Linked DNA regions of Homo sapiens. The protein of the gene in region 1 purifies or fractionates together with the protein of each later gene. This does not show direct contact. Each region holds a gene or a part of one and is shown on either strand. Other genes may lie near its edges.

Region 1 (3,500 bases):
TCCAGCTAATTTTTGAACTTTTAGTAGAGACAAGGTTTCATGATGGCCAGGCTGGTCTCAAACTCCTGACCTCAGGTGATCCACCTGCCTCAGCCTCCCAAAGTGCTGGGATTATAGGCATTAGCCACCGCGCCTGGCCTGGAATGCACCTTTTTCTATAGTGAACAGCAATAAATAAAAATGGACACCAAGTTGTGTGGCATTTCCCTCTGTGTCAGCACTTTGTTTTTCTGACCTTTATTAATTCATTTTCAGCTCATACTAACATTCCAAGATGAGTAAGGCAAGTATTGTTTAGGGTTTCTTTGTAGTAAGAAAATAGATAGAAAACATCAGTGGCTTGTCTGAAGTGACATGCTCATCAGGACAGAACGGGGCCTAAACCAGGTTCCCTGTCACCCACAAATATTGTCCTCCTGGCTGGGCACGGTGGCTCATGCCTGTAATCCCAGCACTTTGGGAGGCCAAGGCAGGTGGATCACGAGGTCAAGAGATCGAGACCATCCTGGTCAACATGGTAAGACCCTGTCTCTACTAAAAATACAAAAATTAGCTGGGCGTGGTGGCACACACCTGTAGTACCAGCTACTCGGGAGGCTGAGGCAGGAGAATTCCTGGAACCCAGGAGGTGGAGGTTGCAGTGAGGTGAGATCGTGCCATTGCATTCCATCATGGTGAGAGAGCGAGACTCCATCTTAAAAAAAAAAAAAAAAAAATTGTCCTCCCATATTCTACCACAGCCCAAGGCTAGTTCCTTCACAAGACAGTGGTCGTGGTCCCTTATTCTAGCCACTGCACCTCTGCCCTTAAAGCACTGACTTTCTGGGGCCCTGAACCCTCTAAATCACTCAGCTCCAAGCAGAAGAAAAAAACCGAAGTACCAGACAAATTTTGTTCTGAATGCTCAACTATTACAAGGCAAGAAAATAGGGGATTTATCCCCTTGGAAAAAGAATTTGCAAAATCAAACATTAAAGAGGATTCTGAGATTTGGCACTAAAATTGTACCCGAGAATGCAGGGCCATGCGCTGAGGACATTGGCTGAGTGGCCAGGAGTTAGTGCTGCTGGGGACACTGGGTAGTAGCCTTGTTTTCCTCCGATGCAGTCATAGAAATCACATCAGACTGTGATGATTTGCAGGGTTTATGAACCTTCTTTGATTTTTGCTTTTTAAGAATTGAGCTATTTCTGACCTTATTGAATGACCTTTTGAGAACTAATGTTACGTGAACCTGACCCTCTTTTTCTTTAACCAGGTGGTGACTATATTTTCTGCTTCTAATTATTATGAAGAAGGCAGCAATCGAGGAGCTTACATCAAACTATGTTCTGGTACAACTCCTCGATTTTTCCAGTACCAAGTAACTAAAGCAACGTGCTTTCAGCCTCTTCGCCAAAGGTGTGTATACTATACCGAGAGTGCTGAGCACTGGTATCACGGACCCATTAGAACCAGTCCCACGTGACTAAGAGCAGCCACGTGAGTGAAGAGAGTCATTTATAGCTTACTCATTAGTATCAACAAAATGTAAATAGTTCCAGACACCAAGTGGTGAATGCACCCATATTTGAAACCAAAAAGAGCAATTTTAAATTCATACATCTTTTTAGATGGATAAAGCAGTCAGCCCTCAGAAACGTAACTGAATGTAAAGAAAAGAAGATCCCCACACCCACTCAGTCCCCCAACCTACAACCTTCTCTGACCCACAAACAGCTCTATCTGGTCTTGCCCCTTTCTCTTCTCTATCCAGAAGTGTATGTGACAAATAGTTGAGTGTCTCTCTCCATGTGATGGCATTTGTAGCTTATACTCCTTTTCTCCCTTTAACATTATCTTTCTAAGTGTTTTTTTTGGTTTTTTTTTTGTTTGTTTTTTTTCATTTGTTTTTTGTTTTTTTGAGACGGAGTCTCGCTCTGCAGCCCAGGCTGGAGTGCAGTGGCGTGATCTCAGCTCCCTGCAACCTCTGCCTCCCAGGTTCAAGCTGTTCTCCTGCCTCAGCCTCCTGAGTAGCTGAGATTACAAGGGCCCGCCACAACACCTGGCTAACATTTTATATTTTTGGTAGAGACGGGGTTTCACCATGTTGGCCAGGCTGGTCTTGAACTCCTGACCTCATGTGATCTGCCTGCCTTGACCTCCCAAAGTACTGGGATTACAGGCATGAGCCACTGCGCCCGGTCTAAGATTTTTTACATTATAGAACTAACATGTTTGTTGTTAACAACTGAAAAAAAGCAAAGAAGAATAAAGAAATTGTTAACAACTTCTCTCCTTTCTCAATTATCCTTTTCCCCAGAGGTAACTAAAACTGGCAGTTTAGAATGGCCCCTTCCACCCTCTTCTTGCTCTTACAAAAATAGTCAAGCATTTATTCAGTCATTGAATTAAAAAAAACCTTTGAGTACCTGCCATGTGTCAGATACTATTCTAGGCATACATAATATAAGATAGGCTGAAGTCCCCTCATCAAACACATATCTCAGTGTGAAGAGAAAGACGATAAACAATGTACATACTTTTTTTTTTAAAGAAGGAGTCTTGCTCTGTTGCCCAGGCTGGAGTGCAGTGGCACGATCTTGGCTCACTGCAACCTCCACCTACTGGGTTCAAGTGATTCTCCTGTCTCAGCCTCCCGAGTAGCTGGGACTACGGGCATGCCCCACCACGCTGGGCTAATTTTTGTATTTTTAGTAGAGACGGGGTTTCACCTTGTTGGCCAAGCTGGTATTGAACTCCTGACCTCAGGTGATTTGCCCGCCTCGGCCTCCCAAAGTGCTGAGATTACAGGTGTGAGCTACCACGCCCAGCCTGTACGTACATTTTTTTTTTTTTTTTGAGACGGAGTCTTGCTCTGTTGCCAGGCTGGAGTGCAGTGGTGCGATCTCAGCTCACTGCAACCTCTGCCTCTTGGGTTCAAGCAATTCTCCTGCCTCAGCCTCCCAAGTAGCTGGGACTACAGGTGCACGCCACCACACCCAGCTAATTTTTGTTTTTTTAGTAGAGAGGGGGTTTCACCATGTTGGCTAGGATGGTCTCGATCTCTTGACCTTGTGATCCGCCCGCCTCAGCTTCCCAAAGTGCTGGGATTACAGTAGTGAGCCACCACGCCCGGCCGTACGTATATTTTTTAAAGAAAGAATCACACTGCATACTGTATTCTGCAACTGAATTTTTCCCCTAAAAATTTTATCATGAACATCACCGCAAGTTAGTAAAGATAGACCTAACTCATTCTTTTTAGTACATACATATTATTCTGTAGTATACATGTACCATAACAGTTATGGAGCAACTAAATCTTATCCAATTGATAGACATCCAGATTGGTTCCAGGATTCTGCATTTAAAAACAATGCTATAACTAGCATTCCTATATATAAGGAACTCATACGACTCAACAGCAAAAAAAAAAAAACCAAGTAATCCAATTTAAAAAATAGGCAAAGGACCTGAATAGACATTTTCCCAAAGACATACAAATGGCCAACAGGTAT
Region 2 (3,500 bases), on another chromosome or scaffold:
TTACCATATGACTCAGCAACTATACTCCTAAATATCCAAGAGAACTGAAAACATGTCTACACAAAAACTTACATATGAATGTCTATATAGCAGCACTGTTCATGATAGCAAAAAGTGGAAAATATCCAAATGTCCATCAAACGATGAATAAACAAAATGTGATTAATCCATGCAACAGATTATTTGACCATAAAAAGGGATGAAGTATTGACACAAACTATAACACAGATGAACCCTGAAAACATTATGTGAATGAAAGAAGCCAAGACACACAAAAGGATACATATTGTATGATTCCCTGTATATGAATATTGAGAATAGGCAAATCCAAAGAGGCAGGACGCAGATTAGCAGCTGCTAGGGACCGGGGAGAGAGGACAATGGAAGGGGAGTGCTAATGAATACAGAGTTTCTTTTCGAGGTAATGAAAATGTCCTAAAGTTGACTGTGGTGACAGGTGCACAACTCCAGTGAACTGTGCACTTATAAAAAGCTGTCAATCCTACAATGGTGCCTCCAATATTGATTTTATTTTGTTGGTCAGAGCAAACCAAGGGTCTAGGAACCAGTGGTGTAGACATCTCGTATACAACTTTACTCAGCTACCCTAACTACCCTAATAGACCCTGGGATACAATGGGAATTTCACATTTTCCAGGTTAAGAAAGGGCCAGGCGCGGTGGCTCACGCCTGTAATCCCAGCACTTTGGGAGGCTGAGGCAGGTGGATCACCTGAGGTCAGGAGTTTAAGACCAGCCTGACCAACAAAGTGAAACCGCGTCTCTACTAAAAATACAAAAAAAATTAGCCGGGTGTGGTGGCAGGTGCCTATAGTCCCAGCTACTTGGGAGGCGGACACAGGAGAACTGCTTGAACCCAGGAGGCAGAGGTTGCAGTGAGCCAAGATTGCGCCACTGCACTCCAGCCTCAGCAATGGAGTGAGACTCCATCTCAAAAAAAAAAAAAAAAAAAAAAAAAAAAGAAAGGAAAGGAAGTAATTCTAAACCTCTAAACTTTTATCTGGATGCAAAAAATAACTACCTAAAACTTAGACTAGCATATCTACTGATTCAGAAAATACAGATTAAATTTAATTATGAAAACAGCTCTAGAAAAAAAAACTTCTTAAAATCTCTGGTTTGGACTCACCTCTTTTTTCTGAAGCACCAACCTCTACAGCATTGTGCATCGAAAAACAGTCTAGCAAAGTCCAGCTTTATCACACCCTTCTATACTATCAGCTCATGAGACCTATTCATATGGGCACATACGCTGTACTGATCAGGATCACATGGGATCAACAACATTCCTACTACAATTTGGTCACCAAAACCTGACTTCCATACAGACCTGATAATAGGCTTTCTTGATCTCTTTCTGGCTGGCATTTCGAGGCACTCCTAATATCTGATAATAATCTTCTTTGGCCAAAGGGGCACTCGTGTGGAAGGAGGCAGTACAAATGAAAGGGTTATGTTTTGTTCCTAAAAAGGAAAAAACAAAGAAAATCACTCTGGGAATGTTCTCAACAAAAGAAAACTGTGAGTACATGACCCACCAGGCTATATCTGTGAAGGAACAAACAAACTGATAAGGTTTGGCTGTGTCCCCACCCAGATCTCAACTAGAATTTTAGTTCCCATAATCCCCACGTGTCATGGGAGGGACCTGATGGGAGGTAACTGAATCACAGGAGCGGTTACCTCCATGCTGGTCTCGCGATAGTAAGTTCTCATGAGATCTGATAGTTTTATGAGGGGCTCACCCTTTTGCTCATTCTTCCTGCTGCCATGTTAAGAAGGATGTGTTTGCTTCCCCTTCCGCCACGATCGCTGAGGCCTCCCCAGCCGTGCTGAACTGTGAGTTAAATAAACCTCTTTCCTTTAAAATTTACCCAGTCTTAGGTATGTCTTTATTAGCTGCATGAGAACAGACTAATACACAGGCTACAGCTTTAGGGCTGTTCCCTAATGCACTTCAATAATGGCTAAGGAAGCCACAGTATTCAATTAATATTAAACTATGTCAGAGTATTGGATGAGGCTGATTCTCCTCGCTTATACTACTGGAGTGGTCTCAGTAAACCACTAAAGGAATAATACTCCTGACTGGGAGATGATTAAAAAGGGATTCAGCTCCCCCCTCTTATGCCACATGAGCACTTACCATTTGCTAGGTATTTTCATATTTTCATATTTTTCTGTCACATTTAATGCTTAACAACTCCCCACATTCTTTTCCCTCTATCTTGCAGCCTTGGGTATCTACTTAAGGAGCAGTTCTCAAGACTGCGCTCCCTGGACCAACAGCATCATTAGACTGATGAAAACACAGATGTTCAAGCCCTACTCCAGACATTCACCAGAAACTCAGGAGGTCTCCACCCACTAGATGCCAGTAGAGAACTCCCCGTCTCCAGGCATTGCCAAATGTCCCCTGGGAAGTAAAAGTGTCCCCTGCTGAGAACCAATGACAAATCAATCTAAGAAGGTCGGGGAAGAACTTCTAGGCATCAGCTGTTAAGCTGCAGAAACTGGCTAAGCTGCCCAGGAAAGCATTTGCCACTTTCAGTGGAAAACAAATGGCGGTTACTAACTAGGATGACTTTGTACTTTGGATCTGGATTCACAGCACCTTTTTTAATAGCAAGACACCAACTGCTTAAGAAACAAGGATGTTTTAGTTCATCCACTTAACAGATAGGAAGAGCAGGTTTTTTGTTTTTTGAGATGGAGTCTCGCTCTGTCGCCCAGGCTGGAGTGCAGTGGCGCCATCCTGGCTCACTGCAAGCTCCACTTCCCGGGTTCACGCCATTCTCCTGCCTCAGCCTCCCAAGTAGCTGGGACTACGGGCGCCTGCCACCACACTCGGCTAATTTTTTCATATTTTTAGTAGAGACGGGGTTTCGCCGTGTTAGCCAGGATGGTCTCGATCTCCTGACCTCATGATCCGCCTGCCTCGACCTCCCAAAGTGCTGGGATTACCGGCGTGAGCCACCGTGCCCGGCAGGCTTTTTGTTTCTTTGTTTTTTGAGACGGAGTTTCGCTCTTCTTGCCCAGACTGGCGTGCAGTGGTGCGATTTTGGCTCACTGCAACCTCCGCCTGCTGGGTTCAAGCGACTCTCCTGCCTCAGCCTCCCAAGTAACTGGGACTACAGGCGTGTGCCACCACGCCCAGACTGGAGGTGTTTTAATAGATGAAATCTGTTTAAAAAGTGAATAAGCCGGGCCGGGTATGGTGGCTCCTGCCTGTAATCCCAGCACTTTGGGAGGCCAAGGCGGGCGGATCACCTGAGGTCAGGAGTTAGAGACCAGCCTGACCAACATGGAGAAACCCCATCTCTACTAAAAATACAAAATTAGCCGGATGTGGTGGTACATGCCTGTAATCCCAGCTAGTAAGGAGGCTGAAGCAAGAGAATCGCTTGAACCTGGGGGGCAGAGGTTGCAGTGAGCCAAGATCGCGCCATTGCACTCCAGCCTGGGCAACAGGAGTGAAAC
Region 3 (3,500 bases), on another chromosome or scaffold:
ATAGCATTTATGACATTTAGGAAGGTAGAAAGGAAAGTCAGTTTAAAGGGAAGAGTGACAAAAGGCATACTATATTTCCTTTTTCAGGAAATTTTTCTTTTCTTTTTTCTTTTCTGTAGACTGTGCAACTTACATCATCTGAATTGGAGTCCACACTTGAAACACTAAAAGCTGAAAATCAACCTATAAGAGATGTCCTAAAGCAACTCATATTAGTGCTTTGTTCAGAAGAGGTAACATTTGTTTTAATATTTAAATATTATTAAGGCAAAAAATTCTTGGTAACAATAAGAAAAACCAAATATAATATTTATGATTTTTACAATTGATCGTTATATGTCAGGCTTGTAAAGAATGCAATTAAATGAAAGGTTAACTAATTTCAGCTACACCTTGAATGGCATGTTTTCTGGTTGCTGTAGTTTGTTTACGATAATCTGCAAAGTGAATGATAGTAACAGCTGTGATAGGTTTATCATACATGCCAAATGTCCTTTCAAGCCATGGCTCCGGTCTCTTATATCTAGATTGTCAAGCAACTGATACACGCAGTAGTCATTTGCAAGTCAAATATTACTAGGTTGTTAATGCAGGGATTGAAATTCCATTTTCCTGCTGGAAAAAAGCTCTTTCTGAGATAAAGGGTCCCTTGCCTTTTTTCAGCGGGCATCCAGCTGTACTTTGTGTTCATTTTAGTGTATGTCTGCAATTTGTGGGATATCACTAGACTATTTTTCACTTTCTAGTTCAATATAATTGAGCCATAAACTTGTAGTTTTAGGGAAAAAATATCATGACTAACTTTATGATTATAATCTGCTACTGTTAAATTCTAAAATATTTCTTCATATTACTTGGATACTAAACTAGACTGAGAAACTTTTCAATGATACATATTTCTGCATCCTGAAATTAGACTGTGATTAGGATTTGATTTGGGAATTACTTAATCTGGAAGTCTTTTTTAAATAATACCATACACAAAGCCTAAAACATCAAATTTGGCATAAATAATGGCCTATTTTATATTACAGATAACACATCTTTTAACCCCTACACGTGTAAGACTTGCCCACTTCTTAGAGGTGAATAAAAATATCAAGGGGCAGAGTCAGGTTGTTAACATGAAACCATTTATTTTTAAAGTACTATTAACTTTTTCTAAACTCTGAACAGTAAAGCTAAAAATGTGACATTTTTACCTTCACACTGATTTCTTCTTTTTCACATCTATGCTGTATTTTAGAATATGCAAAAAGCCCTTGAATTGAAAGCAAAATATGAATCCGACATGGTTACTGGTGGCTATGCAGCTTTAATAAATTTATGCTGTCGACATGATAAAGTAGAAGATGCCTTGAACTTGAAAGAAGAATTGTGAGTACCCTGGCACTGAAACAAGTTGTCAACATTTATTCTGCTCTACAGACCTTGATAGATTATCTAGATGGAATATTACTCTCTTATATAATGTCATTTTTAAAAATTCTTTTGTTGTCAGTGTTTTTGAAATTTCGTATTATACGGCTCTTTAATTAATTGTGGCTTATGTTCAGCAAGGTGTCTTTGTTTAAGTATGATAAGACATTCTAGTCCTTAGAACCAAAGGTTTTTTTCCATTGATTATATATCATCACAACAGTGGTGATGGTGGTAACTGTTTTAAGAGGCTTGATAACATTTCCCTTTCAATATTGTAGTGTAAATAAAATTCTATCCATTTCTCAGGTACCTTTGGCTTCCTATCCTGTTAGATTTTTCAAGTAAAAATGTCAAGTATTCGTGATGAAGGTTAGAATCACTTAAAGCCAAAGAGTTTCTTCATAAGTATCCTTTGCAGATGGAGTGATGCAATATATATGTAGTGTTGGGCTTTTACTTCACTAGTCACTTTGAATATAATTTCGTGTGAACTTGTATATGGCTTCAAAAAGAAATCCTAACTGAAGCGTAGAGGCCAACATTAGTTCAGGTCTTCTGATGAGCTTTTGAAAAGTGATTAAATGGATGTTGCTGTTCTTTTAGCAGTTAATTGACTTTTAAAACAATATAAATGTGGCTTTAATTTTTAGTGACCGCTTAGATTCATCTGCTGTCCTTGACACCGGCAAGTATGTAGGCCTTGTAAGAGTATTGGCAAAGCATGGCAAGCTCCAAGGTAAGCCTCAGCACATAAAGGAAATATGTGATGCAAGTATCTTGCCACTGGAATAACATGTGAATTGATATTAATGGATATCATGTCCTGCAAAGTGCTTGAACACTTTGCATAGAAATTTGCATGTGAATCCAACCAGAGCTACATGGACAGTGTAGGCCATTAGTTTTAATGGATTGGCAAGCTTGTCATTTACATTTGCACAGCTCAGTGCTTTTTGCATTTCTGCAGCTAGTTTTTATTAGCATTGCTGTTTGGATTGAGTTTGAAGATCATGACTTATGGCACAATTTGCTTATGTGCCTGCACTAATGGCTTTGTTTTTGCTTAAGAAGGTCTGAAGGCTGAACGTAAAACCTATAAACGTAAAACCTATAAACATAACCTAATATATGCGCCTGAATTTTGCAGTAGTCTTTGCCTTACTTTTTAATAACATTAACAAAATATATACTTTAAAGTTTTTATTTTAATTAAGGTTTTTATTTAATGGTTCATGGAAAAAGCATAGCTGATTACACAGCTGATTTGCATACTCAAATTTTCTCGTTGAGATAATGCTAAGCCTAATAAAATTAATTACACTTGATAATACATTCATACTATTTTCTTGTTTCTTAACTTTCTGATTTGGCTTTATTTTGAAATTTCCTTTTTAGCCTTCCTCTTTTCCTTTGATTTTCAGAAAAGATTGTTTTAATTTTATTATAGGGAAAAATGTATGGAGAAAATCATTTATTAGAACATTGAATGTTTTCCTAGGACGCCTTTCTAACTCTTTCTAAGGATTAGCCTATTTTTTTAAAATCACTTTTTGTAAAGTGGTCAAAACATTTTGTCTGTGTAATAATTAAGAACAACATTATAAAAATGCACTTATTCCATATCCTAAAATGTTTGTTTCTGCCTTCCTAATGAAGCTTAATGAATCTAATGTATTAACATGCAGTCTTTTGGAAAGCTTTCATTGGCTCTGCTTGGCTAATTAGTATCGACATAGCAAACAGGCCCTATCGGTATCAGACCATTAGTCTGGCTGTATATACAGTGTAAACACATCTTTATTATCTGGCCTCCTGACAAGCCATCTGCTGAAGAAACAATGGTGTGATTTAGCAGATGTTAGCTCTGAACGATAAAAGCATCCATTTAGGAGGATCTTACAGCTATAGGGCAGACCATACAGGGTTATGTGGTACAGAGTGGGCACATAGTCCCTATCTATAATTTGTAGTCAAAGTTGCAGGGAAATGATAAAACCATGCTATTGTGGATTTATAATTGTAGTCTCGTTTAGAAATGCAAGTAGTAATTAACTTGAAATCGGCATTATACACTAGAA
Region 4 (3,500 bases), on another chromosome or scaffold:
CGTAATGGGTATTTCTGCTGCCTGAGACTGCATAAGCTGAAGCACTGGCTGGGAAGCAATGTCTTTATAAGGCATCTTTCCCCAGAGGCATGAGGGTGGACAGCACTGAGGGGGTCATGAGTCGGCTTAGAGAAGTGAGGAGTTTTTGTTACTGTGTGTTCTTGATTCAATTTGGAGTTCAGGTATAAATCATCATAGCTCTTAGTTAAAATCTGTCTCAATGAATCCGCTATCCATGAGAGAAAGGTTAACACTGTCTCTGCCACAAGGAAAATATGAAATACTGAGATCTACCCTGCCTATAGCAAAACTAGATCAAGAGCCTACCTAAAGCTGTATACAGGCCAGCTAGGGCCAAAACTGGTGCTTAGGATAAATACAGCATTCCAAGCAGAGCTATAGGAAAATAGGTTTTGTCATTAAAAATAAAGTTTTGGACAGGCACAGTGGCTTATGCCTATAATCCTAGCATTTTGGGAGGCCGAGGCAGAAAGGTTGCTTGAGTCCGGGAATTCGCGACCAGCCAGGGCAACAAAGCCAGACCCCGTCTTTACAAAAAAAATATTAAAAATTAGCCAGGAGTGGTAATACTTGTCAGTAGTCCTAGCTACTTGGGAGGCCGAAGCAGGAGGATTGCTTGAGCCCCAGAGTCCAAGACTGCATTGAGCTATGATTGCATTGCACTCCAGCCTGGGCCACACAGAACAAGGACCTGACTATAAATTAAAAAAAAAAAAAATTGTATCTTCCTGTTTCCCTCCTTATATATATATGTGCATGTTGCTATTAGGCTATTTGAGTCCAGTCACCATTTTTACCTTTTACCCCAAGGAGGGGAGGAGAGCACTTATGTAAGAATCTAGTCTTAAAGTATAAGTTGTCTTGTTATGTTTCTTATTTATGTTACATAGTCCTGAAACCTTGTTTAGAAGAGACACTTTAGTATCTGAGAAAGGCTTGTTTGCCTTACGTTCTCCATCTCAACCTATTATGGCTTTGAGTGTGTGTGTGTGTGTGTGTGTGTGTGTGTGTGTACACAGGATCCCAAAGCCTTATGACTCGTTAAGCTGTCTGACTGAATTTTTGACACTCAATAAAAAATGAAGCTTCAAAATGCTCAACTCTCAAAATAGTACAGTAGTTTTGTTTTTGTTTCTTTAAACTGTGCTTAAAGTATGGAAAGACTGAACAATCTCAAAGGTCAGCAGTAATGATGTTATTCTTAAAGGGGCCCTGTGGGTCTTTTTTATAAAAGCAGTGTCATATCCTTTTTATGTAATCAATATGTTGCAGGAACAATAATTTCTTACCATTAATGTGGTGTCTTTTACTTTTTAAAATATCTTCATGTCTGTTATCTTAATTTGGTTTATACAGGAACGCAGATTGAAAAAGAATTTTATTTTCTGCAGTTAACGCCACATTTTTTCAGCTTAAAAAACTAAATTTCACTTTTCTATATTCTTATATAGAGACTAGATAACTGCTGCTTGTGTAGCTCGATGTCATAACAGATGGGTAGTTCCAAATTCAATTTGGTTGTAATCTAAGGGTTTTTTTTTTTGTATACCTTTGTCAAGTTATTATTGACATAAAGTGAACTGTATGTATTTAAGTGCATAATTGATGAGTTTTGACGTATGTATTTACCAGTGAAACCACCACTGCAATCACGATAATGAGCATATCCATTACCCCCCCAACATTTCCTCATGTCCCTTGGTAATCCTTCTCATTCTCGCCATTCCCCCGTCCCTAGGCAATCACTCATCTGTTTTCTGTGACTCTAAGTTAGTTTGCATTTTCTAGAATTTTACGTAAATGGGGATGAACAATACCTGTCACTCTTGGTAGATTTCTGCGTTGACTGAAAAAAAACAGAATGTGACCTTCAAAGTGGTGGCATTCTATTGCTTGAATCCAAGTGTCCATTATGTGAGGTAGAAGGCCTTTGATTTCTATCTTTTTAATGAGATCCTAATGTTTAATAAAAGTAGCAATAACTGACATTTGTTGAAAGCCAACTATGTGCCAGGCATTGTTCTAAGCACTTAGATATATTTTCTCATTTAAACCTTACAACAATCCTATGAAGCCGGCACCATTGCTAGCTCCATTTTACAGATAAAAGAGACCAAGACACAGGCCAAACAGCTAGAAAATGGTAGAGTTCAAACTCAGGCAGTATGGGACTTGAGAGCCACCACTGCCTTCCAGATGTAACTAGAAAATTCAAGCCTTCTAGTAGCCTTAATACCAATAGTGAAGCATAACAGTGAGTTACATAGTTCAGGAGCCAGAGTTCCATGTGAACTTGGAGCTGACTCTGAGATCTGATGCCTGGAGCTGTAGCCCAAAACTAAATGTCTTTGTACTGCTGCAGTTTTACCTGTGTCATCAATTATTTCTTCCTTGCATGGTTTTATCTTTATTGGAAATTGATTTCCCACCCCACACATTTTCATGTTTTCTGAAAGTCTTTTAAGATTTGACCTAAATTTTTGTTTTCTAGATGATCCAGATCCTGATGATGGATTTAACTATAAACAGATGATGGTTAGAGATGAGCGGAGGTTTAAAATGGCAGACAAGGATGGAGACCTCATTGCCACCAAGGAGGAGTTCACAGCTTTCCTGCACCCTGAGGAGTATGACTACATGAAAGATATAGTAGTACAGGTGGGTGAGATGAAGGATTCTGAACAGGGACTCAGTTTCTCTTTTTGTGGCTTATTCTGTCTTTCCCCTTTAGCCTTATATAGCATATCTTATATATATATATGCTATATAGCATATCACTGTATATGCTATATAAGTATTGGCCAGATTCAGAATCCAAGGTCTGTCACTGTTTTTCTGTGACCTTGATCAAGGTGCCTTGGGCATTCTGTTTAGTATGATAATACCTTCTGTCATATAATGTATTTTGCCATTTCATTGGTAGCTTCATATTGTAAGAATGGGGGGAAATCCCATTATTTAAAATATCCCATGACCAATAGTCAGACATTGAGTAATAACAGTGATACTAAAGAACTCTCACAGAAGGCAGTTACTGACAACATAGACTATCTATAGCTAAACACATAATCACTGGTCACATCTCCTGTTAGTGTGACTTTAGCATGACTAAGGCTACCAGGTAGATCATCATGGGCTTGATGGGATAGTTTGTCATTAAGCAGTGTCAGTGTTCTGTCAGGAAGACTCAGTTATTTTAGATTGAAGCATAGGAAATTGCTCATGTTTTACCATTTCTTGGCTAGAAATGGTTTTAACCATACAGACACACATGCATACATACATACATACATACATACATGTACAAGTGTGTTTAATGAATAATAAATGTTTACCTAAACTAGATACTTTACTTTCTTCTGGCAAATTCAGAGACCAACTTAATAGTCTCTTCTTATTCTTTCCTGTTTAGGAAACAATGGAAGATATAGATAAGAATGCTGATGGTTTCATTGATCTAGAAGAGTATATTGGTAAGT
Region 5 (3,500 bases), on another chromosome or scaffold:
AGCACAGTTTCAGTTAAAGTTAAATAGAGGTTATTTTTCTCTGCCAAGTGTATAAAACTACCTTTCACTTTTCTATTTATCTAGGTTTTTTTTTTGTTTGCTTGTTTTTTTTTTTTACAGGAGTGTCAGGCAGATGCGTTTGTTTTGGTAATGGTTGCACAACTCTGTGCCGGTAGCTAAAAGCCATTAAATTATGTACCTTAAATGGGGGAACTGTATGGTATGTGCAGTATGTGCCAATAAAGCTGCTAAAAAGAAAGAGAAAACTCAATCAGACTCTTCTATGACCCCCCTAACGTCATTCACATTGATAATGTTGGTTCTGGTTTCTATAATGTTGTCACCTTGGCTTTGACTCTGGGTGCGTTGGATTTGGTCAACTGCTTCTCACTGGCAGCTGGGATCAGTATGTCACAGTCGGCCTCCAAGATGCTTCCTTCATAGGGCTTTGCCTTGGGGAAGCCCAGAATGGACCCATGTTGCTGCCATTGATTGAAAATCACAATTAATAGCTGCACCAGAGTTTTAAATATTTATATTTAGTGTCTATGCTATAAAAATGTATTAATACCAATTTGAAGTCTTCCAGTTCCTTTGGGTCAATACCATCTGGATTCCATATACTCCCATCAGACTCACCAACAGCAATACATTTAGCACCAAAACGATGTAAATATCTCATAGAGTGTAGGCCCACATTACCAAATCCCTGTGAAGAACAATTACCCATAACACAAAAATTAAAGTCCTGGTATAGACAGCAAGAGTCATATTTTGACCAATGTAAATCCATACTCTGTTTATTTAGAAGCAATTCTCAAAATTCTTTTGCCAAAAGAAACAATGTACTAACTGGTTTCTCTTCAACAATAAAATTCTCTGTTTAAGAATGTGATGAGCGGGCATGGTGGCTCACGCTTGTAATTCCAGCACTTTGGGAGGCTGAGGCAGGTGGATCACTTGAGGTCAGGAGTTCGAGATCAGCCATGGCCAACATGGTGAAACCCCGTCTCTACTAAAAATACAAAAATTAGGCATGGGGTCCGTGCCTGTAATCCCAGCTACTTGGGAGAATGAGGTAGGAGAATCACTTGAACCTGGGAGGTGGAGGTTGCAGTGAGCCGAGACTGCACTCCAGCCTGGGCAATAGGGTGAGACTCCATCTCAATCAATCAATAAATGGCAGTGGTGTTAAGTACACCACCAGGTCCTCAGTCCTTGATGATCAGATGTCCTATGTTGTGAAAAGGGATGTCACTAATTTGGAGAAATACAATTTTTTTTTTTTTTTGAGACCGAGTCTCATTCTCTCACACAGGCTGGAGTGCAATGGCACAATCTTGGCTCACTGCAGCCTCTGCCTCCCGGGTTCAAGTGAGTCTCCTGCCTTAGTCTCCTGAGTAGTTGGGATTACAGGTGCCGCCATCATGCCCAGCTAATTTTTCTTTCTTTTTTTTTGAGACAGAGTCTGGCTCTGTCACCCAGGCTGGAGTGCAGTGGCGCAATCTCGGCTCACTGCAAGCTCCACCTCCCGGGTTCAAGTGATTCTCCTGCGTCAGCCTCCAGAGTAGCTGGGACTACAGGCGTGTACCACCACACCCTGCTAATTTTCCTATTTTTAGCGGAGACCGGGTTTCACCATGTTGGCCAGGATGGTCTTGATCTCTTGACCTCGTGATCTGCCCACCTTGGCCTCCCAAAGTGATGGGATTACAGGCGTGAGCCACCACGCCCGGCTTAATTTTTCTACTTTTAGTAGAGACAGGGTTTCACCATGTTGGCCAGGCTGGTCTCGAACTCCTGGCCTCAAGTGATCCACCCGTCTTGGCCTCCCAAAGTGCTGGGAATACAGGCATGAGCCACTGTGTCCAGCCACCACTTCTATTTTCAAGTAATTTCAACTTAATTAAGATTCTCCTAAGTAAAATACATGTTAACACATGAAACAAATTTGGGTCAGTGTGTAAACCTTTCTATATACTTACAAAACTTAGAAAATTATGTTAAGAGACTTGCCCTTCTAGCTATAATTTCAAGTTTGAATACTAACCAATATTTTGGTTGAATTTGGTGATAGTTTGGTTGAAGTTGGTAACAGTTTCACATGTACTTGAGAGATACTTAAATCAGTTCTAGTTACATGAATCATACCAAGGTTCAAAAAACAAAATATCTATTACTCTGAAAACCACCACTCTAAAATTTAAGAGATTTGAGATAACTTAATTTTAAAATTACAATTCTAAAAACATTGAAAACTTTACTTAATGTCTATCAGTTATTAAGGAAACTTTTTTTGTTTTTGTTTTTACCTGAACAACAAATGTTTTATCTCCAAACCCTGGTGTCATTCCTAAAATGCTCATGTAAGAAGCTTCATTGATGAAATTTTCAATCCCATGGAAGACACCACGGCCAGTAGCAGAGATGCGTCCATGGATTCCCCCTTGGCTGATGGGTTTACCAGTAACACAGGCGTGTGCATTAATATCCTGTAAGAGGGGGTAATTGAAAGAATGAAATGTCAAGTCCAATTTCTCTGTTGAAGGAACATAATGAATTAAAGTCAAAGCACATTCTCATTTAATCAAAAATATGCTAATTAGGAGTGTGTGTATGAATGTATTTAAGGTATACTTTTACCAATAGAGACAAGACTCACTTTTTCAGCTTTCTGTTCCTAGAAAATACAATAAAATATACTATATTTTCTGTTTTTTTTTTTGTTTGTTTGTTTGTTTGTTTTTGAGACGGAGTTTCACTCTTGTTGCTCAGGCTGGAGTGCAATGGTGAGATCTTGGCTCATCGCAACCTCCACCTCCCAGGTTCAAGCGATTCTCCTGCCTCAGCCTCCTGAGTAGCTGGTATTCCAGGCACGTGCCACCACGCCCGGCTAATTTTGTGTTTTTAGTAGAGATGGGGTTTCTCCATGTTGGTCAGGCTGGTCTCAAACTCCTGACCTCAAGTGATCTCCCTGCCTTGGCCTCCCAAAGTGCTAGAATTACAAGCGTGAGCCACCACGCCCGGCAAAGTAGACCATATTTTCTGACAGAAAAAACAAGAGTGTAGGGATTGAACATCAAGTAAGTACAAATAACATCACAAAAGTAGAGCTAGCTCAGCCTAAAGCTATCATTCCTTCAACAAGTATTTAAGCACTACTAAATCAAGGTACATACACATCCCATTCATGAGTGTCTTAAAATCTACTATAAGACTTGAGCATGTCACCAAAACAGAGCCTGAGACAGGAAGAGGCTTTACAATTGTCTTGGATGGGAAGACTCAATGTTGTATTCTGCCACTTTTGAAAAAGGAAGTTTTTAATATAACTTGATACTTAATATAACATGACATTCAAGTTCATCTAAGAGTAGAGTAACGAAAGTATTTAATGAAGTATTTTTAAAAAGGTATGTGTGGGTAAGAGTCCTGTGCTTCTGTGTGAGCAGAGTATCTTTGGTAGCAGTGGTTAGCTCTGCAAAGTGGAGATGGGGGTT
Region 6 (3,182 bases), on another chromosome or scaffold:
GGCATTGATACAAAATACGCTGTGTTCAAGCTATGGAGCCTGCCACTGTAGTTACTAGAGTTACGGTTCAAAGCTATTTCTGAGAGAAAGCCACTTCATCCTCAAAACCCAAGAGGCCCACTTAAAGTGATGCGAATTCTCATTTCAGGTTTTTAAATTATACTAAAAGATTCTAGTAAGAAAATTTTAATATGTATGTATTGGTGTTCTTTTTACATTTCATTTAATGAAATGTCTACTGTCAATACGATAAAGCAGAACCCAGTGGAGTAAGAATACACGAAACTGCCAGGCACAGTGGGTCATGCCTGTAAACCCAGCATTCTGGGAGGCCGAGGCGGGTGGATCACCTGAGGTCGGGAGTTCAAGACCAGCCTGACCAACATGGAGAAACCCTGTCTCTACTAAAAATACAAAATTAGCTGCGGTGGTGGTGCGTGCCTGTAATCCCAGCTACTCAGGAGGCTGAGGCAGGAGAATCGCTTGAACCCGGGAGGCGGAGGTTGTGGTGAGCCAAGATTGCGCCATTGCACTCCAGCCTGGGCAACAACAGCGAAACTCTGTCTCAAAAAAAAAAAATATATATATATATATATATATATGAAGCTGATAGTTGAATTATGTTGATTCAGGGACAAGATAGCATTGCATAGTAACTTCCAGTAGGATCAAATATTTTGAGAGTGGTTAAAACGCCAAGGAATCCTGATTTTATGAAATTATGCCTTCTGATAGGTGCAACAAAATTGAACAGAAGAGTAACAGCTTAACTAAACCTCCATTGTGTGAAAGTTTTATGAAATGTTTTGACTTTTTTTTTTTTTTCCCTAGAGAACAGGGTTCTTGCTTTGTCGCCCAGGCTGGAGTACAGCCTTGAACTCCTGGGCTCAAGCGATCCTCCTGCCTCAGCCTCCCAGTTAGCTGACACAATTGGGATGTGCCACTACTTGCTCCTGTTTTTTCATAGACGGGTCCTGCTGTTGCTCAGGCTGGTCTCGGATTCCTGGCCTCAAGCAACTTTCCTGCCCCAGCTCCTAAAGCGGCCAGGGTTACAGGTAGCCGCCTTGTCTGTCCCGTTTCGACCATATTTTATTTTTGAGAAGGTCTTGCTCTGTCGCCAGACTGGAGTGCAGTGGCACGATGATAGCTCACTGCAGCCTCGATCTCCCAAGCTCAAGTGATCCTCCCACCTCAGCCTCTTGAATAACTGGGACTGCAAGTGTGGACCACCATGTCTGGCTAATGTTTTTTATTTTTAGCAGAAATGAGGTCTTGCTATGTTGCCAAGGCTAGTCTTGAACTCCTGAGCTCAAGCGAGCCTTCTGCCTTGGCCTTCCAAAGGGCTGGGATTAGAGGGCTGAGCCACCACACTTGGCCAACCATATTTTATTTTTTATATTTTTATTTTATTTGATCCTTGTTCTGAAACCATAAAGTGAGTTTAACATTTCTGGCTGGGCACAGTGGCTCATGCCTGTAATTCTAACACTTTAGGAGACCAAGGCAGGAGGATGCCTTGAGCCCAGGAGTTTGAGACCATCCTGGACAACATAATGAGAAAAGAAAATACAAAAATTAAGGGGTGTGGTGACACATGCCTGTAGTCTCAACTATTTGGGAGGCTGAGGCAGGAGGATTGCTTGAGCCCGAGAGGTTGAGGCTACAGTGAGCCATGTTTACGCCATTGCAGTCCAGCCTGGGCGACAGAGTGAAACCCTGTCTCAAAAAAAAAGTAACATTTCTATATGATTTTTGGGATCGACATGTCCATAATGTTAATGAAGCGCATAGCAGTCACTAGTAAATTAGGAGTTATACATTGCTTCTATAGCATCAGAAATTGTATATCAGGCCAGGTGCAAAAGCTCACTCCTGAAATCCAAGCACTTTGGGAGGCTGAGGTGGGCGGATTGCTTGAGGTCAGGAGTTCAAGAACAGCCTGGCCAACATGATGAAACCCCAGGTCTCTACTAAAAATACAAAAATTGGTCAGGCATGGTGGTGCATGCCTGTAATTCCAGCTACTCGGGAGGCTGAGGCAGGAGAATTGCTTGAACCCGGGAGGCAGAGGTTGCAGTGAGCCAAGATTGTGCCACTGCACTCCAGCCTGGGCGACAGAGCCAGACTGTCTGAGGAAGAAATTGTATATCAGGCTGGGCACAGTGGCTCATACCCGTAATCCCAGCACTTTGGGAGGCCCAGGCTGGGTATCACTTGAGCCCAGGAGTTGGAGACCAGCCTGGGCAACAAAGTGAGACCCCTCTCTCTACAAAAAATAAATTAGCCAGGCATGGTGGCACGTGCCTGTAATCTCAGCTACTTAGGAAGCTGAAGGAGGATCGTCTGAGCCCAGGAGTTTGAGGCTGCAATGAGCTACAATCACACCCCTGCACTCCGGCCTGGGCGACAGAGTGATAACCTGTCTAAAAAAATAAAAATAAATTGTATAATCATATTGCAATTTTCTTTGCATTACTGATGAGGAAAAATCTCAAAGTAATTGTAAAAAATCCTGGATATCACATAGTTGAGAAACAAAGTTATTTTAAACTTACAGGACTCTGTAGTTCACAGTTGAACACTGTGGCTTCCTGAAATATCAAAGAATAATGTACATTAATAAGCCAGCTACTATCGGCATCTTGTAAAAATTAAAAAATTAAACATAAATAAAAGTTCAAACTATGTGTTGAATCATTTGTCTTTTACAAGCCAGCCCTGACTTCACATTCTCAGAGGTGTTCATAGAAGTGCATGAGATGTTAACCTCACCACTGATAAGGTTTATGAATCTCCTGGTTATTAAGGTGTGACCTGACAAGTTTCCTAGAAAGCAGCTATTCCAGAGTTTTCATGTGTGTTTTTATAGACACTGAAGTGCAGTATGCAATAGTCACTTAATAAGTATTGCTACACTGAATGAAAGAGCCTTGGGGATGTGTCTCTTACACAAGATATAATTCCTACCTAATACTGTGAATAATAATTTGATGTTCAAATCAGCCAGCTTGCTTTGCAGAATCCAGTGTATTGCAAAGTTTGAAGATGGAAAATAATTCATGTGACAGGCCATATCATTATTCCAAGACCCATGATCTTAACACTAGAGGGCTATATTAGTCAAGGTTAAAACTGCTAAATCTCAAGGAAGCATTAACATCTGAAAATATGGTATACCCAAC
Region 7 (3,500 bases), on another chromosome or scaffold:
CGCAGCAATTTCAGCAGTGGCCCCGGCTTCCCAGAGTATGGCTACCCTGCCGACACCGTCTGGCCTGCCATGGAGCAAGGTGTGTGCTCAGCAGGACAGAGGGATACCGGCTAACCCCACTGGGGCGGCCACCCAGCCTGGCATCTGAACACGGGAGTCAGGGCTGGGATTGGAATTGTGATGTCCTGGCCTGGCTCTGACCCAATCCGTCCTTCCGAGAAGCAGGGTGTGTCAGGACGGGCCGATGCTGTCTCTTCGATTGCAGTTTGGTTTAAGGCCTGAGAGCTGCCCTGCCTGCCCCGACATGCGTTTTAAAGTGTGACTCTGAGGACAGCTCATATCCAGGCTCTGGGCAGCCCCTGATCACATCCCCATCGCAGACCCCGTGGCTCAGCAGGCGTGCAGGAGGGAGCTGCTCATTCCCCTTGGAGACTCCGCTCCTGCAGTTGTCCCGCGTGTCAGTCAGAGTTCCCTTCCAGGATGCTCAAATGCTTTTTCTTGGCAAATTGCAGAAATATACGTAAAGATATAAAGTTACAGAATTTAATGGTAGGCTGAGTTTTTTTGTTTGTTTGTTTTTTGGTTTTTTTGAGATGGAGTCTCACTCTGTCTCCCAGGCTGGAGTGCAGTGATGTGATCTTGGCTCACTGCAACTTCTGCATCTCGGGTTCAAACGATTCTCCTGCCTCAGCCTCCTGAGTAGTTGAGATTACAGGTGTTTGCCACCATGCACAGCTAATTTTTGTATTTTTAGTAGAGATGGGGTTTTGCCATGTTGGCCAGGCTGGTCTCAAACTCCTGACCTCAAGTGATCCATCCTCCTCGGTCTCCCAAAATGCTTGGATTAGAGTGTGAGTCACTGTGCCCGGCCTTACTTTCTTAAAGTATTGTTTCAGTTAACATTTTTTCATTTCTTTTTTTTTAAGAGACAGAGTCTCACTCTGTCACCCAGGCTGGAGTGCAGTGGCACGGTCATGGTCTCTGTCTCCTGGGTTCAGGTGGCCCTCCTGCCTTGGATCCTTTCAAAGTGCTGGGATTACAGGCATGCACCACTATGCCTGGCTCCTTATTTTCTTTTTTGCTTGAGGTGTTTTGCTGTCCTTTTTGCTGGGTGCTGTGTGGTCATCGCAGTCTGAATTTGATTTTGTGAAAATGGAAGAGCTCGGGAGTGGGCCAGGCCTGGGAGGATTACGCACCGTGGCAGGAGCCTCAGGGCGGCTCATGAGGGTGTTGCGGGAGCTTTCTCAGTGTACAAGGGAACAGCTTTCATGCTTAATGATTCAGACATTTTTCTTTTCCTGACGTATGCTGAAGTTCTACTTTTAAGTATGATATTAAACAATTACCGACTTTTGAGTTGGAAGTCTGTCGTGATAAATCTAACCTGTGATTTAAGCTGTGTGAGCACATTGAAAATCTAGGCTCAGAAGCATCAGTGACAAGCTGATTGTTTCTTTTTCAATTTATTTTAAATGCAGTTTCATCAAGACCAACTTCTCCTGAAAAATTTTCAGTGCCTCATGTCTGTGCCAGGTTTGGCCCTGGCGGTCAGCTTATCAAAGTGATTCCCAATCTGCCTTCAGAAGGACAGCCGGCCTTGGTGGAGGTCCACAGCATGGAGGTAATGGCACACGCAGAAGCGTGGCGTCACTGCTCTGCTGCCCTGGGGAACTCTCTGCTTTGCAGTTTGTCATCTTCAATTGTCAGACCTTGTCTCTGGACATACGTCCTTGGAAAATGTTTATTCCTGTGAATTTTCAATTTGTAGGGTTTTTCTTCTATTTGATCATATATTTTTCCTCCTAGAAGTCAGTATTGTAAGCGTCTGCCTTGGGTGTTCAACGTGGTTTGATTGTATATGCATTTTCTGTCCTCGTTTTGGGGATGTTTGCTTTATTGGTGCTTTTCAATGATAGATGCAGTGGGTGGGCCCGGTGCTGCCCAGGTGAGGGGGGCGGGTGGGGTGGACGTGCACGGCGCTGCCGAGGTGACGGGGGCTGGCATGCGCCTCTTCCTGCAGCTTCTGCAGGCTTCTGTCACATGTATTGGGGTTCTGCCTCAGTATTTGGGGAGAGAAAATGGATTTCACTACTTAAAATAAAGTTTGAAATCATGGCTGTGGTCCACACAGGCCATGTTCCATGTAACAGCCTCGACAGAGCCTTCACCTGCTGTGGGGCGGGGCAGGTGGGCCATGCCATCCTCTCCTCTCACGGGCAGCATCCGTGCCTGGGTTGGCCGGCCTGCCAGCAGGGTGGCTGCGCACTGGCTGCCACTGACCCACGGCCCTCTCCTCGTAGGCCTTGCTGCAGCACACGTCTGAGCAGGAGGAGATGCGGGCGTTCCCGGGACCCCTGGCCAAGTATGTTCCTTGTTGAGGCATTTCTTTGTGAGCCCGGCCTTGCAGACATCACTGCTCACTGTGTGTTCTTTCTGCAGAGACGACACCCATAAGGTGGATGTCATTAATTTTGCACAGAACAAAGCTATGAAATGTTTGCAGAATGAAAACTTAATTGACAAAGAGTCTGCAAGTCTTCTTTGGAATTTTATTGTTCTCTTATGCAGACAAAATGGGGTATGTTTCTTTCTACTTCTAGAGTGTTTCTTCTTGCTGGTCTTCATTTCGTCTTGGGAATGCTCAGCCTCCCGAAGGAGCAGGGCGGGATCCGCGTGGCCAGCTATGGGAGCCTCGAGGGCCCCCTTAGGAAGCACACTGTAGTGGCTGGGTAGGGAGGGAGAGGGAACGTGCGGTTGGGATGGGATGAGGTTTCAGCCCAGCCTTGCCAGCCTTTCGGGTAGTTGTGGGTCTGGCTGTGTCCAGGGTGGGGCTTTGTGCCTGTGGTGGTCCAACGCGTCCTCACCTGAGAGCCGTTGTTCTCCTTCCTGTTCCTGTTGACCCAAACAGACCGTGGTAGGGACCGACATTGCGGAGCTTCTGTTACGAGACCACAGAACAGTGTGGCTTCCTGGGAAGTCGCCCAATGAAGCAAACCTGATTGATTTCACGAATGAGGCAGTGGAGCAGGTGGAAGAGGAGGAGTCTGGTGAGGCCCAGCTCTCTTTCCTCACTGGTGGTCCGGCGGCTGCCGCCAGCTCGCTCGAGAGAGAGACCGAGAGGTTCAGGGAGCTGTTGCTGTATGGCCGTAAGAAGGTGCGCCTCCTCATCATGGCACCTGGCGCCTGCACATGTCCACTGGGTCGGGCCTGGTGCGGGGTTGCAGCCTTCAGGGAGGGACGTGGCCCCCTCTTGGGAGCATCCGCGCTGCAGTGTGGGGCTTCGGGTCTTGCTGTTTCCTGAACAATGCCTGACTCTTGTATGCCATCCTTCTGGAGGTGTTAATGTTGGTTTCCTTCTAACTGTTTCCAGTGTTGGAGACCTGCAGATTAAATTTTCAGTTATTCGATAAATGCACATGTTGAGCACAGGCCGTGCCCCTGCTGTGTGTGCCAAATCTCGGATGAAATGTGCATGACACAAGTTGTGGCATTCTCACAAA

The links.
Region 2: the proteins of PPEF1 (region 1) and DNAJA3 purify together in Homo sapiens (affinity purification with mass spectrometry; one large-scale study listed by BioGRID and IntAct). This does not show direct contact.
Region 3: the proteins of PPEF1 (region 1) and LRPPRC purify together in Homo sapiens (affinity purification with mass spectrometry; one large-scale study listed by BioGRID and IntAct). This does not show direct contact.
Region 4: the proteins of PPEF1 (region 1) and CALU purify together in Homo sapiens (affinity purification with mass spectrometry; one large-scale study listed by BioGRID and IntAct). This does not show direct contact.
Region 5: the proteins of PPEF1 (region 1) and GLUD1 purify together in Homo sapiens (affinity purification with mass spectrometry; one large-scale study listed by BioGRID and IntAct). This does not show direct contact.
Region 6: the proteins of PPEF1 (region 1) and SLC25A3 purify together in Homo sapiens (affinity purification with mass spectrometry; one large-scale study listed by BioGRID and IntAct). This does not show direct contact.
Region 7: the proteins of PPEF1 (region 1) and SEC16A purify together in Homo sapiens (affinity purification with mass spectrometry; one large-scale study listed by BioGRID and IntAct). This does not show direct contact.

Annotation. Positions count from the first base shown.
Region 1 is NC_000023.11:18,805,145-18,808,644, forward strand, and holds part of PPEF1 (serine/threonine-protein phosphatase with EF-hands 1), read left to right. Parts: intron 1-1,258; coding exon 1,259-1,401; intron 1,402-3,500. UniProt on the Homo sapiens protein: May have a role in the recovery or adaptation response of photoreceptors. May have a role in development.
Region 2 is NC_000016.10:4,432,368-4,435,867, reverse strand, and holds part of DNAJA3 (dnaJ homolog subfamily A member 3, mitochondrial), read right to left. Parts: intron 1,485-3,500; coding exon 1,351-1,484; intron 1-1,350. UniProt on the Homo sapiens protein: Modulates apoptotic signal transduction or effector structures within the mitochondrial matrix. Affect cytochrome C release from the mitochondria and caspase 3 activation, but not caspase 8 activation.
Region 3 is NC_000002.12:43,943,990-43,947,489, reverse strand, and holds part of LRPPRC (leucine-rich PPR motif-containing protein, mitochondrial precursor), read left to right. Parts: intron 1-119; coding exon 120-233; intron 234-1,246; coding exon 1,247-1,377; intron 1,378-2,072; coding exon 2,073-2,158; intron 2,159-3,500. UniProt on the Homo sapiens protein: May play a role in RNA metabolism in both nuclei and mitochondria. In the nucleus binds to HNRPA1-associated poly(A) mRNAs and is part of nmRNP complexes at late stages of mRNA maturation which are possibly associated with nuclear mRNA export.
Region 4 is NC_000007.14:128,756,359-128,759,858, forward strand, and holds part of CALU (calumenin isoform a precursor), read left to right. Parts: intron 1-2,512; coding exon 2,513-2,679; intron 2,680-3,433; coding exon 3,434-3,494; intron 3,495-3,500. UniProt on the Homo sapiens protein: Involved in regulation of vitamin K-dependent carboxylation of multiple N-terminal glutamate residues. Seems to inhibit gamma-carboxylase GGCX. Binds 7 calcium ions with a low affinity.
Region 5 is NC_000010.11:87,060,344-87,063,843, forward strand, and holds part of GLUD1 (glutamate dehydrogenase 1, mitochondrial isoform a precursor), read right to left. Parts: intron 2,493-3,500; coding exon 2,313-2,492; intron 710-2,312; coding exon 572-709; intron 483-571; coding exon 345-482; intron 1-344. UniProt on the Homo sapiens protein: Mitochondrial glutamate dehydrogenase that catalyzes the conversion of L-glutamate into alpha-ketoglutarate. Plays a key role in glutamine anaplerosis by producing alpha-ketoglutarate, an important intermediate in the tricarboxylic acid cycle.
Region 6 is NC_000012.12:98,603,686-98,606,867, forward strand, and holds the end of SLC25A3 (solute carrier family 25 member 3 isoform b precursor), read left to right. Parts: 3' UTR 1-2,682; downstream 2,683-3,182. UniProt on the Homo sapiens protein: Inorganic ion transporter that transports phosphate or copper ions across the mitochondrial inner membrane into the matrix compartment. Mediates proton-coupled symport of phosphate ions necessary for mitochondrial oxidative phosphorylation of ADP to ATP.
Region 7 is NC_000009.12:136,462,541-136,466,040, reverse strand, and holds part of SEC16A (protein transport protein Sec16A), read left to right. Parts: coding exon 1-79; intron 80-1,478; coding exon 1,479-1,621; intron 1,622-2,300; coding exon 2,301-2,362; intron 2,363-2,439; coding exon 2,440-2,578; intron 2,579-2,908; coding exon 2,909-3,154; intron 3,155-3,500. UniProt on the Homo sapiens protein: Acts as a molecular scaffold that plays a key role in the organization of the endoplasmic reticulum exit sites (ERES), also known as transitional endoplasmic reticulum (tER).